Regions from separate parts of the Homo sapiens genome. Here region 2 is linked to region 1. A link means that fine-mapping ties the variant in region 1 to the expression of a gene that starts in the linked region. Tissue or cell type: tibial artery. Region 1 holds a variant in brackets; the other region holds the start of a gene. All regions are shown on one strand. Distances are from middle to middle.

What was found. PIP is the estimated chance that this variant, and not a neighbour inherited with it, causes the effect.
Region 2: it holds the start of RNF20, and the variant in region 1 is fine-mapped to the expression of RNF20 in tibial artery (GTEx, PIP 0.94).

What each region holds. Positions count from the first base shown.
Region 1 is chr9:101,552,706-101,560,690 of GRCh38, reverse strand. RNF20 (ring finger protein 20) reads right to left here. Exons shown (of 20, transcript NM_019592.7): 13 at 7,938-7,985; 14 at 6,586-6,703; 15 at 5,848-5,997; 16 at 3,095-3,307. Among named protein-coding and RNA genes, the nearest start is that of RNF20, 23 kb to the right of the region's middle. RefSeq lists a silencer at 6,267-6,484. The variant A/G (reference allele first, on the strand shown) is at 3,914.
Region 2 is chr9:101,531,740-101,536,739 of GRCh38, reverse strand. RNF20 (ring finger protein 20) reads right to left here and starts at 2,887. Exons shown (of 20, transcript NM_019592.7): 1 at 2,826-2,887; 2 at 1,188-1,342. The coding sequence starts at 1,316. It also overlaps a transcript of PGAP4 not described here. RefSeq lists an enhancer at 3,016-3,145.

The sequences.
Region 1 (7,985 bases):
TATTACTGATTTTGCCCATGAACCCTTCAAAATACATCAAGACTATGATAACTGAAAGCTTTACTTTTAATATAAAATATTGTGGAAGATTCAGTAAGAGTCTGAAAAATGACTGAAAAGATTCTTTTCCAAATTGCCAAAAATAGAGAATGCATGCTAATGCTTAAAACCTGGCAATTCATACTATAACATATAAATTAGAACTCAAACAAAAGTCCAAGAGTATTTCCTTCAGAATGGCTAGACATTCTAAAAGAGTCTTTTTTGAAATTAATGCACAAAGTAGAATCAAACAATATTAAAGTGTAAAAAGTAAAATCACAAACACCCACCTCCTAACCTCACCCACAACTCATCCCAATATGTAGAGGTAACCATTCTAACAGTTTCTCACACTGCCTTCAAAAAGCATATCAAAAAGATAGTCCACCATGATCAAGTGGGTCTCACACCAGGGATACAGGGATGGTTTGACATCCACAAGTCAATAAATCTGATACACCATATAAACAGAATTTTTAAAAAATCACATGATCATCTCAATAGATGCAGAAAAAGCATTTGACAAAATCCAGCATCCTTTTATGATTAAAACTCTAGCAAAATCAGCATAGAAGGGACATACCTTAAGGTAATAAAAGCCATCTATGACAATCCCACAGCCAACATTATACTGAACAAGGAAAAGTTGAAAGCATTCCCCCTGAGAACTGGAACAAGACACAGATGCCACTCTCACCACTTCCATTCAACATGGCACTGGAAGTCCTAGCCAGAGCAATCAGACAAGAGAAAGAAATAAAAGGCATCCAAATTGGTAATGAGGAAGTCAAACTGTCACTGTTTGCTGATTACATTATCATATACCTAGAAAACCCTAAAGACTCATCCAGAAAGGTGCTAGAACTGGTAAATGAATTCAGCAAAGCTTCACTATACAAAATTAATGTACACAAATCAGAGCTCTGCTATACACCAACAGCAACCAAACTGAGAATCATATCAAGAACTCAAACCCTTTGACAACAGCTGCAAAAAAAATAAAATAAAATACTTAGGAATATACTTAACCAAGAACGTGAAAGACCTCGACAAGAAAAATTACAAAACACTGCTGAAAGAAATCACAGATGACACAAACAAATGGAAACACATCCCATGCTCGTGGATGGGTAGAATCAATATTGTGAAAATGACCATACTGCCAAAAGCAATCTACAAATGAAATGCAATTCCCATCAAAATACCAACATCATTCTTCACGGAACTAGAACAAACAATCCTAAAACGCATATGGAACCAAAAAAGAGCATACATAGCCAAAGCAAGACTAAGCAAAATGAACAAATCTGGAGGCATCACATTACCTGACTTCAACCTATACTATAAAGCCATAGTCACAAAAACAGCATGGTACTGGTATAAAAATAGGCATGTAAACCAATGTAACAGAATAGAGAACCCAGAAATAAAGCCAAATACGTAGTCAACTGATCTTTGACAAACCAAACAAAAACATAAAGTGGGAAGGGACACCCTATTCAACAAATGGTGGTAGGATAATTGGCAAGCCACATGTAGAAGAATGGAACTAGATCCTCATCTCTCACCCTATACAAAAATCAACTCAAGATGGATCAAAGACTTAAATCTAAGACCTGAAACCATAAAAATTCTAGAAAGCAATATTGGAAAAATCCTTCTAGACAATGGCTTAGGCAAAGACTTCATGACCAAGAACCCAAAAGCAAATGCAACAAAAGAAATGATAAATAGATGAAACTTAATTAAACGAAAAAGCTTCTGCACAGCAAAAGAAATAATCATCAGGGTAAACAGACAACCCATAGAGTGGGAGAAAAAAATCTATACATCCAACAAAGGACTAATATCCAGAATCTACAAGGAACTCAAACAAATCAGCAAGAACAAAACAAACAATCCCACCAAAAAGTGGGCTAAGGACATGAATATACAATTCTCAAAAGAATATATACAAATGGCCAACGAACATAAGAAAAATGTTCAACATCATTAATTATCAGGGAAATGTAAATCAAAACCTCAATGCAACACCACCTCACTTTGCAGGAATGGCCATAATCAAAAAATCAAAAAATAATAGGTGTTGGCATGGATGTGATGAAAAGGGAACACTTTTACACTGTTGGTGGGAATGTAAACTAGTACAATCACTATGGAAAACAGTATGGAGAGTCCTTAATGAACTAAAAGTAGACCTACCACTTGATTCCGCAATCCCACTTCCGGGTATCTACCCAGAGGAAAAGTCACGCCATGGAATACTACTCAGCCATAAAAAGGAACAAAATAATGGCATTCACAGCAATCCGGATGGAATTGGAATTGGAGACCAATATTCTAAGTGAAGTAACTCAGGAATGGAAAACCAAACATTGTATGTCCTCACTCATAAGTAGGAGCTAAGCTGTGAGGACGCAAAGGCATAAGAATGATACAATAAACTTTGGTGACTTGGCGGAGGGAGGCAAGGGACAACAGACTACACACTGGGTACAATAGACTACACACTGGGTACAATGTACACTGCTTGGGTTATGGGTGCACCAAAATCTTGGTATCACCACTAAAGAACTTATTCATGTAACCAAACACCACATGTTCCCCAAAACCTATGGAAATTTAAAAAAAAAAAAAAAAAAGTAAAATCACACATACCTCCTAACCTCACCCACAACTCATCCCAATATCCAGAAGTAACAATTCTAACAGTTTCTCATGCAGCCTTCCAGAAATTTTTAAAATATACAGCACAGGAACACAAGTAAACATATACTTTAACGCAAAAAGGATAACAAAACACGTCACTTGATTTTATTTCAGACATGTTTCCATATTAGCAGATCCATATTTGACAAGTACACTGTACTCTTTTGTAGGAATAACAGTAGAGATGTATAATTTATTTACCAATACCCTAATGATGAACATTTAGTTTTCAAATTTTTTTCCAATCACAAAAATGTGCCACAATAATCATTCTTTTACTTATATCATCATGTAGAAAGCACCCTATTTCAACAGAATAGAAAGCTCTACTCATCCTAATTACCTGAGTCTTCAGAGTCAACACCTGGTCTGCCAGCTCCTCCTTCTCTTCTTTAAGCAACTTATGGATCTGATTGGACTTGATACGCTCTGACATGAGCTTGAAATTTGCATCATCCTTCTCCCGCAATTGCTGCATCAAACGGATATTTTGCTCCTGCATGTCTTCAAAGGCCTGGCCTGTGACATCCATTTCAGAGAGGAGTGCTTCTTCTTCCTAAAGGATGAAGGAAGAGATTTGATTTTAGAAGAATCTTCCAACTTCAATGGAAGAGCACAGGAAACTAAATTTTCCCACTGTTCATTTAGATATAAATTAATTTAGTGACAGAGTTTTAAGAAGTTGTGTTTTGTCACTAGGCATACAGAAGCTCTATTATCTGAAGTCACTGGCACCAATTGTTGGTCTGATACTTATTAGTTGATCTGTACTCAACGTCAGTTAAATTAGACAATAATTGTATTTACCTTAATCTAGACAAACGGATCAAGCAGCAATTGGTTAAGAGTACTTCCATCATAACCTCTCACATTTTCTCATGCTTTTCCACAATTAAAATACTGGATCTACAGGATTTCCAGCAGTTGCAAACATCTAAAGCCTTGTAACAATCTGATAGGTGAAGACTGGTATCTAATAATAGCTTTACTTTATATCTATCTCATTTTAAGTGAGACTGAGCATCTTTTCATATGGTTAAGACCACTTGTATTCTTTCCATAACCAACTCATTTCTTTTGCCTATTCTTCCACTGGATTCTTGAGTTTTTTTCCCTATTTTGGAGAGTTTTTTTTGTATCAGATAAGCCTTCTTTGTAATAA[A/G]AGTTAAAAATATTTTTTACTTTTTGTCATTTAATCTTTTGGCTTTGCTAACAGTGTTTTTTGCAGTGTAGAAGTTTTGCATCATTTTAAAAAATAACTCAAAATTATCAATTTTTTGTTCATGTTTTCTAGCCTTTTATTCATAGAAAGGTCTCCACTCCAAATTATAAAGGAATTTAATGGTTTTCTTCTAGCTTTTTGATGGATGCATTTTTTAAAATATCATATCTATGATCCATTTGGAAATCATCCTAGTGTATTCAAGTATGTATCTAACTTTTCTCTAACATTATTTTTTTTAATTTTGTCCCATCACATGTCACAGTTTTTCTTTTCCCCACTGATTTAAAACTATGTATTTAGCACATAATAAGTATCATGTGTACTTTCAACTACTTCTCAAGTTTCTATTCAGTTCTAATAGCCTGTCTAGTAGTCCCAAGCTATTTCATCTACAGAAACTTTATGTTTTAATATATGGAAGAGACCCCAGTGCTGTTCTTTTTCAATTTCTCTTGTTACTCTTGTTTACTTCTCCACATGTACTTTAAAACCAGTTCTTCTAGTACCAAAATAAACAAAAGCAAAACTTAAAAAAAGCACTTTTATGAGATCACATTATATTAATACATAAACTTAGAAAGACTGAACATTTTTAAGATAGTCATCGTATACAAGAACATAGTGTCTTTCTTTTTACTTGTTCTAGAACCTATAATAGTATAATTTCCTGATAATTACCTTAAGAGAGAGGGAAGAAAAAAAAAAGTGGCATTTACCAGATTTAAGAAAAGTCAAAATTACACTTTTTTTTTTTTTGAGATGGAGTTTTGCTCTTGTTGCCCAGGCTGGAGTGCAATGGCGCCATCTCGGCTCACTGCAACCTCCACTCCTGGGTTCCAGCAATTCTCCTGCCTCAGCCTCCCAAGTAGCTGGGATTACAGGCATGCGCCACCAAGCCCAGCTAATTTTGTTTTTTTTTTTTTTTAATAGTGATGGGGTTTCTCCATGTTGGTCAGGCTGGTCTTGAACTCCCGACTTCAGGTGATCCATCCACCTCGGCCTCCCAAAGTGCTGGGATTACAGGCATGAGCCACCGCGCCCAGCCCAAAATTACACTTGTTAACAAAAGGAATGTGTATAGGATCTAATGAAGTTCTTCTTTTCAAGGCACTTCATGATCAACTTACCATTAAACCTACTCCATCTCACTGTTATTTTGCTATTTCTTAGAAACAATGAAGGTGTACTAACAGAGAATACATATATGGTTTTTTCAAGCATTTTCAGTATCTTTATTATTGAATTTTAATAAAAATTCCCTGGCATTTAAAAATACATACATATTCATTATAAGGAGGAGAACAATCTCTATAGTTCTATGACCCCAAAATAGCCATAGTTAACATACTGCTTAATCAATGTTATTATATTGGTTAATAGATTATATCCTTATTATATATAAATCACATATTTATAAGCATAGTTTTTCTGTGTAGTATATGTACTACATAGAAATATATAATGATATATATTTATAAGCATAGTTTTCTTAGTTTCATATATTTGTAATCATAATGTATATAAAATCTTATGTCTTATTTTTCATTTTATATTCACTATAACCCTTAATTCCAGGTCAGCAAAGAAAGACTAGATCTTCAATAACTGTCTGAACAACAGCAGAGAAAGACTAGATCTTCAATAAATGTCCATTTAAATAAAAGTAAATTTCTTGCCTCACAAATACACAAAACAAAATAACAGAAAGATAAAAGACTTGAAGGTAAGAATTAAAACACACACACAAAAAGGAAAAATACACATTAACAATCAAAAAAAGACCAAAATAAAAAAGCAAATTTCACTGGCAATAACTTATTGTCAAGTAACATTTACTCAAAAAGTCAATTAAATAAAGAAAGTGAGTCCACCTGCTTGGCCATGGCTAGCTTCTTCTGTAGGTATTCTATCTGCTCCTCCACTGCCCGGATCTTCCTCAAGGCATCCTCATCAGCCATTTTCTTGTTCTCTTTCTTCTCTTTATCTTCCAGATCCTTGAGTCTTTGCCTTAGATCTTCCAACTATAAGAGGAAAGGAATTGCACAAAAATAAAAAGTTATAACACATTTTCAAAAATCAATTAATACTGTGCAAAGATAGAAGGTTCATAATACCAAAAGAGTCTTTACAGAATTATAGAACAAGGTACATAATATACTAAAACATTACATAACACCATCTGTTTTAACATCACTCCATTCTACTATGACATGCTTCTATAAGCAACACTTTTGAGAAGTGCACAGGTAACTTTCTTTAGAATAGTGGTTCCCATCCTTTTTTTTAGGCCTCAAAATTTTAAGAGCATAAGACATTCCTCCCAAAAGTAATGAAAAAGATTATCCCTGTAGCAATGAATTACATAGGAAAAACAAGGAATACATACTTTGGAAAGCCTACTCATAACCCCAGTAATTCAGATATATTTTACCATCCTATGGAGAGTTTTAAAATCTCTACTTCAGATGGTCTTTGAAAAGGCAGAAAATGTTGCACTTAAACACTTATTTTAAAGATAAAGAAAGAAATTATATCGTTGGCAAGTATAAAGGAAAATCCCACAAATGAAGATTTTAACCAGAAGGACAGGTAATAGCAGACTAGAATACCTCTGCCTTAGACTTCTTCTCAGCTGCCATCAGCTGAACTTTGTCTCTCTGTTCCTTTGGGGCAGAACGGTACATATCCAGCAATAGTTTCATCTCCTTTTGGCTCTCCTGTGCCTTCCTATGACAGGCGTAGTAGAGGGAGGGGAACAATGTAATAAGAAAATAAAGGTCATCAGAGCAAGGGAATTTTGATTGAGCAGAATATTTTAAAACAGTTTCATTTTACATTTCATATCACACCTAAAAGATAAAATTTTGCACAGACTATCAAAAGACTTTTGGATATGCTTAGAAAGTACAGAAAAGTAAGCTGTATAAAAATGAATCATTTCTCCCTTCAAAGTCCTCTAACAAAGTTATAAAACAGACATTTGTGTACTTGTTATATAGGCAAATTTCTGTGGCCCCCAACCCTGGGTAACTGAGATTCAGTAGGTCTGGGGATGGAGTTCAAAAATTTAAACAAGTGATTTAAACAAGTCACTCAGATGATTCTGATACCACACCAGAAAAAAAAAAAATTGCCTTAAAGAGTTCAAGAGGGAGAAATAAAAGGGAAAAATTTGAAAGTCTGAGATATACTGTTAATCCTAGATTTGACAGCTGAGTGATTAACCATCAGCCAAAGACTAAAACTTCACCTCTTATTAAATTACTAAACCTCTTAACTATACTTTTATATACCAAAAGAGTTCAAGCATTTTGAGCACAGTGGTCTCTCAAGTCCAAACATCAACAAAGGATCAACCATAGAAAGTAAGGAGCAAGAAGTAAGCCGTTCTGCCAGAGAAGTTATTGGTTATACAGGAGAAGGGCCAATGCATAAGGTTATGACACAGAAAAATTCAACAAGTTAAAGGTCTATCTTAGTGTGTCAATGTGTATAGGAGTAAATCTCCTAAGAAAGATATGGCATATTCACAAACCAGTTAACTCTCAGGCAAATAGATCAGATATTGTTCAAGTTACAGTGATATATAAATACTCCACTTAATATCATTTAAATTACAATTAACGCCAGCAATCTGCTCAAATCCAGTGAAGAGCAGTAGTTAATTCCCAATAATTCTCAGAAGTATTACCTCAATCATGACATCCTTTTCCTTAATTTGGATTCATAAAAATAAGGCTACCATCATCGGTTTGCTGATACTCGATCACTGAACCAAAGTACTAAATAGCCATGCAAGCCATTTTGGCTGTGCACTTGAACACGACTTGAAACCAAATTAATTGTACAATCTAAAACATTAAAACGATCAGACAAGCCATGCCATCAACCAAACATTTCATGCATGATGTCTTAATCTTAGCTTTTCAGTCGAAACTGTTACTCTAAATGTGGTTCTTACTTGAGTTCAATCTTCAATTGTTTGATAATTTCTGCTTCCTTTTTCCGT
Region 2 (5,000 bases), 22 kb after region 1:
TATCCCTGTCAACAGCACATACCCCACTCTAAACAGTCTATTCCCTTGTCAGTGCTACCCTACAAACTAAAGTCTAGGGGCTGTCTTCAGTGTAAAGGATAGTGTCTGGCAAATAACAAATACTCAACAAATATTTATATATTGAGTGAATAAATGCCTTTGGAATGCATGATGCAAGGCAGTGCTAAAACAAAAATCACTTCCTGCCAGCAATATTAAGTACCAGAACCTCAGGCAGCCTCAGAAATGACACTTCATCAACAACTCACTATGAATGTTCCTATTATTCTGACTCAAAAAAAAAAATCAGCCTCTCTAAAATAAACCTCAGCCTCAAAATCAAATAAGCAATAGATGTGGTTTTGCAAGCCATACAAATGTAAAGCATTTTACAAAATGTAAAACATTTTAATATCACATCCCCATGTCTGATTTTCAAAAAAGCAAAATCTTGACGTAGATCAAAACCTGTAAACTTCTGATGTCTAACAGATATATAACATTACTATGAGATTTTGGTATATAATACTCATTTTGTCAGCTCCATAAGAGCAAGGATAATATCTATGTTATGCACCATTATATTATCTAGCCCAATATTAGCTATGAATGCCTCCCATTTATTGACTATTTACTATATTAAATGCAAAGTGTTAGCCCTTAACAGGGACTCTTATTTTATATGCATAAAAATCTAATGTAGCAGGTACTCTAATTACATTTTACAGACAAGAAAACAGGCAAAGGAAGGATAACACAAGGTCAGCCAGCTAGGAAGTGGTACAGCTCAGAGTCAACTCCAGGCAATCTGGTCTCAGACTCTCACTCTTCACCATACTCTCAATGATTGCTAAACTGTCTCTTAGAATCTGGTACTGACTTTTTCAGTGAATGAAAAATAAATGTGTATCTTCCCACTGCTAAATACCTATAGTTAATGTTGTATCAGGCACCACCTTCCCAGATTCTCGAAAGAATATAAGTACACCTTGAAAACAAAGAACAACTATCAATCTACCTCTCCTCTAGAACTGACTACCACATCATTTTACCTACTTTCAGCCTGTTTTATTTCCCTCTTCTTTTCAAATAGCTTCCCCATACTCCAGAAAGCTTCCATGAATTTTTAGTTTCAAGTTGCAACTGACAGAAGACAAGCACACTTTCATGGCACTGTTTCCTCATACCGTTGAAGAGACACCTCCTAGCTTAATTGTTTCCACTGTGGTCCCTGAATCTTCAACAGCTGCCTTCTTCTCAGGAGGCATGGAGGTGCCAGGTTCTCCAGCTGCTCTTTTATTTCCAATTCCTGACATTTTGGCAGAAGAAGACAGTCGTTTTCCTGATAGAAAAAAAGGCAGAAACTGACATAATATATGTAAGCAAAGCAACAATAGAGTAAAACAATAGAGTAAAAACTAGCAACTTTTCTGGCCAACCCTTTAACCTGGATCCATTAATTCCACAACCATCTCCATATTTCTCTTTGAGGAAAAAAAAAAAAAATTAAATTGTAGAGTAAAAGTCAAGGCGGGCCGGGCGCGGTGGCTCATGTCTGTAATCCCAGCACTTTGGGAGGCCGAGGCGGGCGGATCAAGAGGTCAGAAGATCGAGACCATCCTGCCTAACACGGTGAAACCCCGTCTCTACTAAAAATACAAAAAATTAGCCAGGCGTGGTGGCGGGCGCCGGTAGTCCCAGCTACTCGGGAGGCTAAGGCAGGAGAATCACTTGAACCCGGGAGGCGGAGCTTGCAGTGAGCCGAGATCGCACCACAGCACTCCAGCCTGGGCAACAGAGCGGGACTCCGTCTCAAAAAAAAAAAAAAAAGAAAGTCAAGGCTAAATTTACATGACTATAAATTTCTAAATAGGATGGTGATAAGAATGGTGATAAGAAATGAGACAATGGGCAAAGGGTGAAGAGACCAAAAATAAAGTTCTGGAATCTCTCTTCCTGTAATGCCAAAATCAGAAAAGGGCAGTTTGATTATGCCAGAAGTTAATACTACAGTGTTGAAAGAATCACAGAGCTGAAAGAGATCTGTGAAATGCCTACTAAAGTCATTAGTACTAGACAAGTCAGTTATCATCTCTAAGCCTCAGTTTCCTAACCCAGGAATAAATAACCACAGTATATACTTCCTATGCTTATTATAAAATAAAATGGATGATATAATTATAGAAAGAATTTGGCACAAAGCCGAACACAAAGTAAGCACTCAGAAACCCCAGCTCTTCTTTAACGTTTGCAGTGTTTTCCCTATTTCCAAACGCTCTCTCCACTGTTTTATGCAACCCTACGTTAGTTAGACCTGGGTGCGAATTTCAGTTCTGCCTGTTAGAGGCCGTGTTGCTTTGAAACAGTGAATTCGCCAAGAGCTTCAGTTTCCTCAACTGCACAATATTAACGAATATATTTTTCGTCTGCCCTGCCTACCTCCCAGGGTGCTCAAAGGAGGCGGAATGGATGCTAAAGCACTTTGGCTACTTCAGGAAACAACGCAGCCATCACCGAGACTAACAAGACTACTCTGCTTCCAATTCAAGCTCCAGGAGAGGACTATCGCTGGCAACAACCTCAGTAGGACCTCGCCTGGAGAGAGAAGACACAGAAGCAGAACAAGGCTGCAATCCAACTCGCTAAAAGCCAAAGACCTCAGCCTCAGCGTGGATAATTGCAGGCCCAGGAGACTGACGGCCCCAAAACTGGAGAGGGTGGAGACTCCTGAGGCCTGGCACAGTCCTGTTGGGCCCTAAGCGTGATCTAACCTAAGTTCTTTGAACTGGCGCCGCGCGGGAACAGAACTCGCAGCAGTTACTCACCAAGGCCCGTGCAGAGATTCCAGCTCTCACCCCTGACCCGCGGCGGAGACAAGGCAGAACTTCCGGGAGGCGGGGCCACGGAGAGGAAAAAGGGAAAGAAAAAAGGAAGTGGCTTCAACCCAGCCCATAGGACTATGAGACCCCGCCGGGCGGAAGTGACGTACGGAGAGGGCACGAGAAGCTTGAGCAAGCGCCGCCTCCCTAGCAACGCTGGGCAAGCGCGGGACCCTCTCCTGGCTACGACCTCTAAGAGTACTCGGGCCTCGCTGATGCCTGACGGAGAGCCCTTGGCTTTTGTTGACTTGTTGACCTTTGCTACTGCGATCTGGTCTTTCTGCGGGGATAAAGTTCCTCATTCTGTTGCTTGTCATTGGGGTTGCCATCACTCGTTCAGACGGCCGATTGGCTGACGGTCCCGTCAATCTCCGGGGACATGACTAGCCTCAGACACCTCAGAAAATTGTTCGTTGGTACCCCTACGTGCTGAAATGAAGAGTTCTGGAGAGAATCTGAGGGATTTGAGGAATTTCAGATGTTGGGGATTTTTTCCCCCGCACAGGGAGCGGTATTCTGCCCTGTCTACACATTAGAATCACTTGGCCTGGACAAAAGCTTTTTTAAAAAAGCGTTCCCCTCATCTCCTCCCCCCAAACCCCGCATTTCCATCCACTAGATTCTAATGCGTAAGCAGGAGTGACAACTACTGCCCTTGTGCTTTTTTGGGAACAAGAAATTGTCCAGGGAAAAGATAAACGCCAATCAGTCTCTGATCTCAGTACTAGTCTATTTTAAGCTAATTAAGCATTGATTTTTTTTTTTAAGTTTATGACAAACTGCTATTTTCCATTCAGTTAAACTAAATGCGTTTTAATGATAGGACGGTAATTAATCTAACCTATTAATGAAAAGCTGTATGTCTCGCAGAACTATGATAAACTACCTAATGACGTCAGCTAAGGGTCTAGAAATGGAAGAATGATCGCTATATCTTTTTTAAAAAATAGAATTTAGGCATCTTGGGAAAAAAAGAAGCTAATCTACACTGGATTTCTGTTAGTGTGAAGACTTTTGTCCCTGTACCTGCTAGGGCTTACCTGTAAATGAAGTAAGATGGTCAACACCAGGGAAACAAGTGTTCCTGGTGCCTGGCAGTGGAACACCTTGACTATCTTGGAAAGAATTAACTGGCCCCAAGTGGACTTCACATTTCATTCCGTGAAGTGGGAGCCTGAGAACATGTGAGTGGGGACACACCTGCCGAAAAGCATTGTATGAGACAATGACACTCATTCTCTCATCTTCTTTGGTTCCTCTACTCTTAGCAAGCCTTTCATTCATAGAACTACTGAATGGCAAGTAATGGTTTTTCTAGCCCAGAAAACTAGAGGTTCACAGACTGCATTTAGCCAACAGTTATGCTTTGTTTATTTTAGACAGTATTGGCTGTCCTGCGTGGTTAAAAACAAGAACAAAAATGAACTTAGTTGCCAACATTTAAAATATGGCTATTTTACATAAAAATCCAAATTATCAGTTTCTCTAAAAAATGTTGATGATCTTGCAACAGAAGGGTTATATTTTTGCATGGTCACATTGCTTAGAGCAAAGTAGTGGCTTCTTCTTTTTTTTTTTTTTTCTTTTTTTCGAGACAGAGTCTTACTCTGTCACCCAGGCTGGAGTGCAGTGGCACAATCTCGGCTCACTGCAAACTCCACCTCACAGGTTCAAGCAATTCCCATGCCTCAGCCTCCCAAGTGGGTGGGATCACAGGCACACGCCACCACACCTGGCTAATTTTTGTATTTTTAGTAGAGATGGGGTTTCGCCATGTTGGCTAGGCCGGTCTCAAACTCCTGACCTCGGACGATCCATCCACCTCAGCCTCCCAAAGTGCTGAGATTACAGGCCTGAGCCACAGCTACTGGCAATGAGCCACCACGCTTGGCGTGGCTCTCTTTTATTAATAGATCATGTTATTCTTGTTTACCATAATCCCCACTAATCTTTACTGGTTCCTTAGCACTAGTATAGTTTAATTTGAGTATCATCACTTGTGTGTTACATTGTGATAAATCAATTGCTGGTACTACGTAAGTGTCTGGTGGACATTATTGGTGATCTACCCAACAGCTATTCCCCTTCCCTCACCTTAGCAGAACCAGGATTTTTTTCATG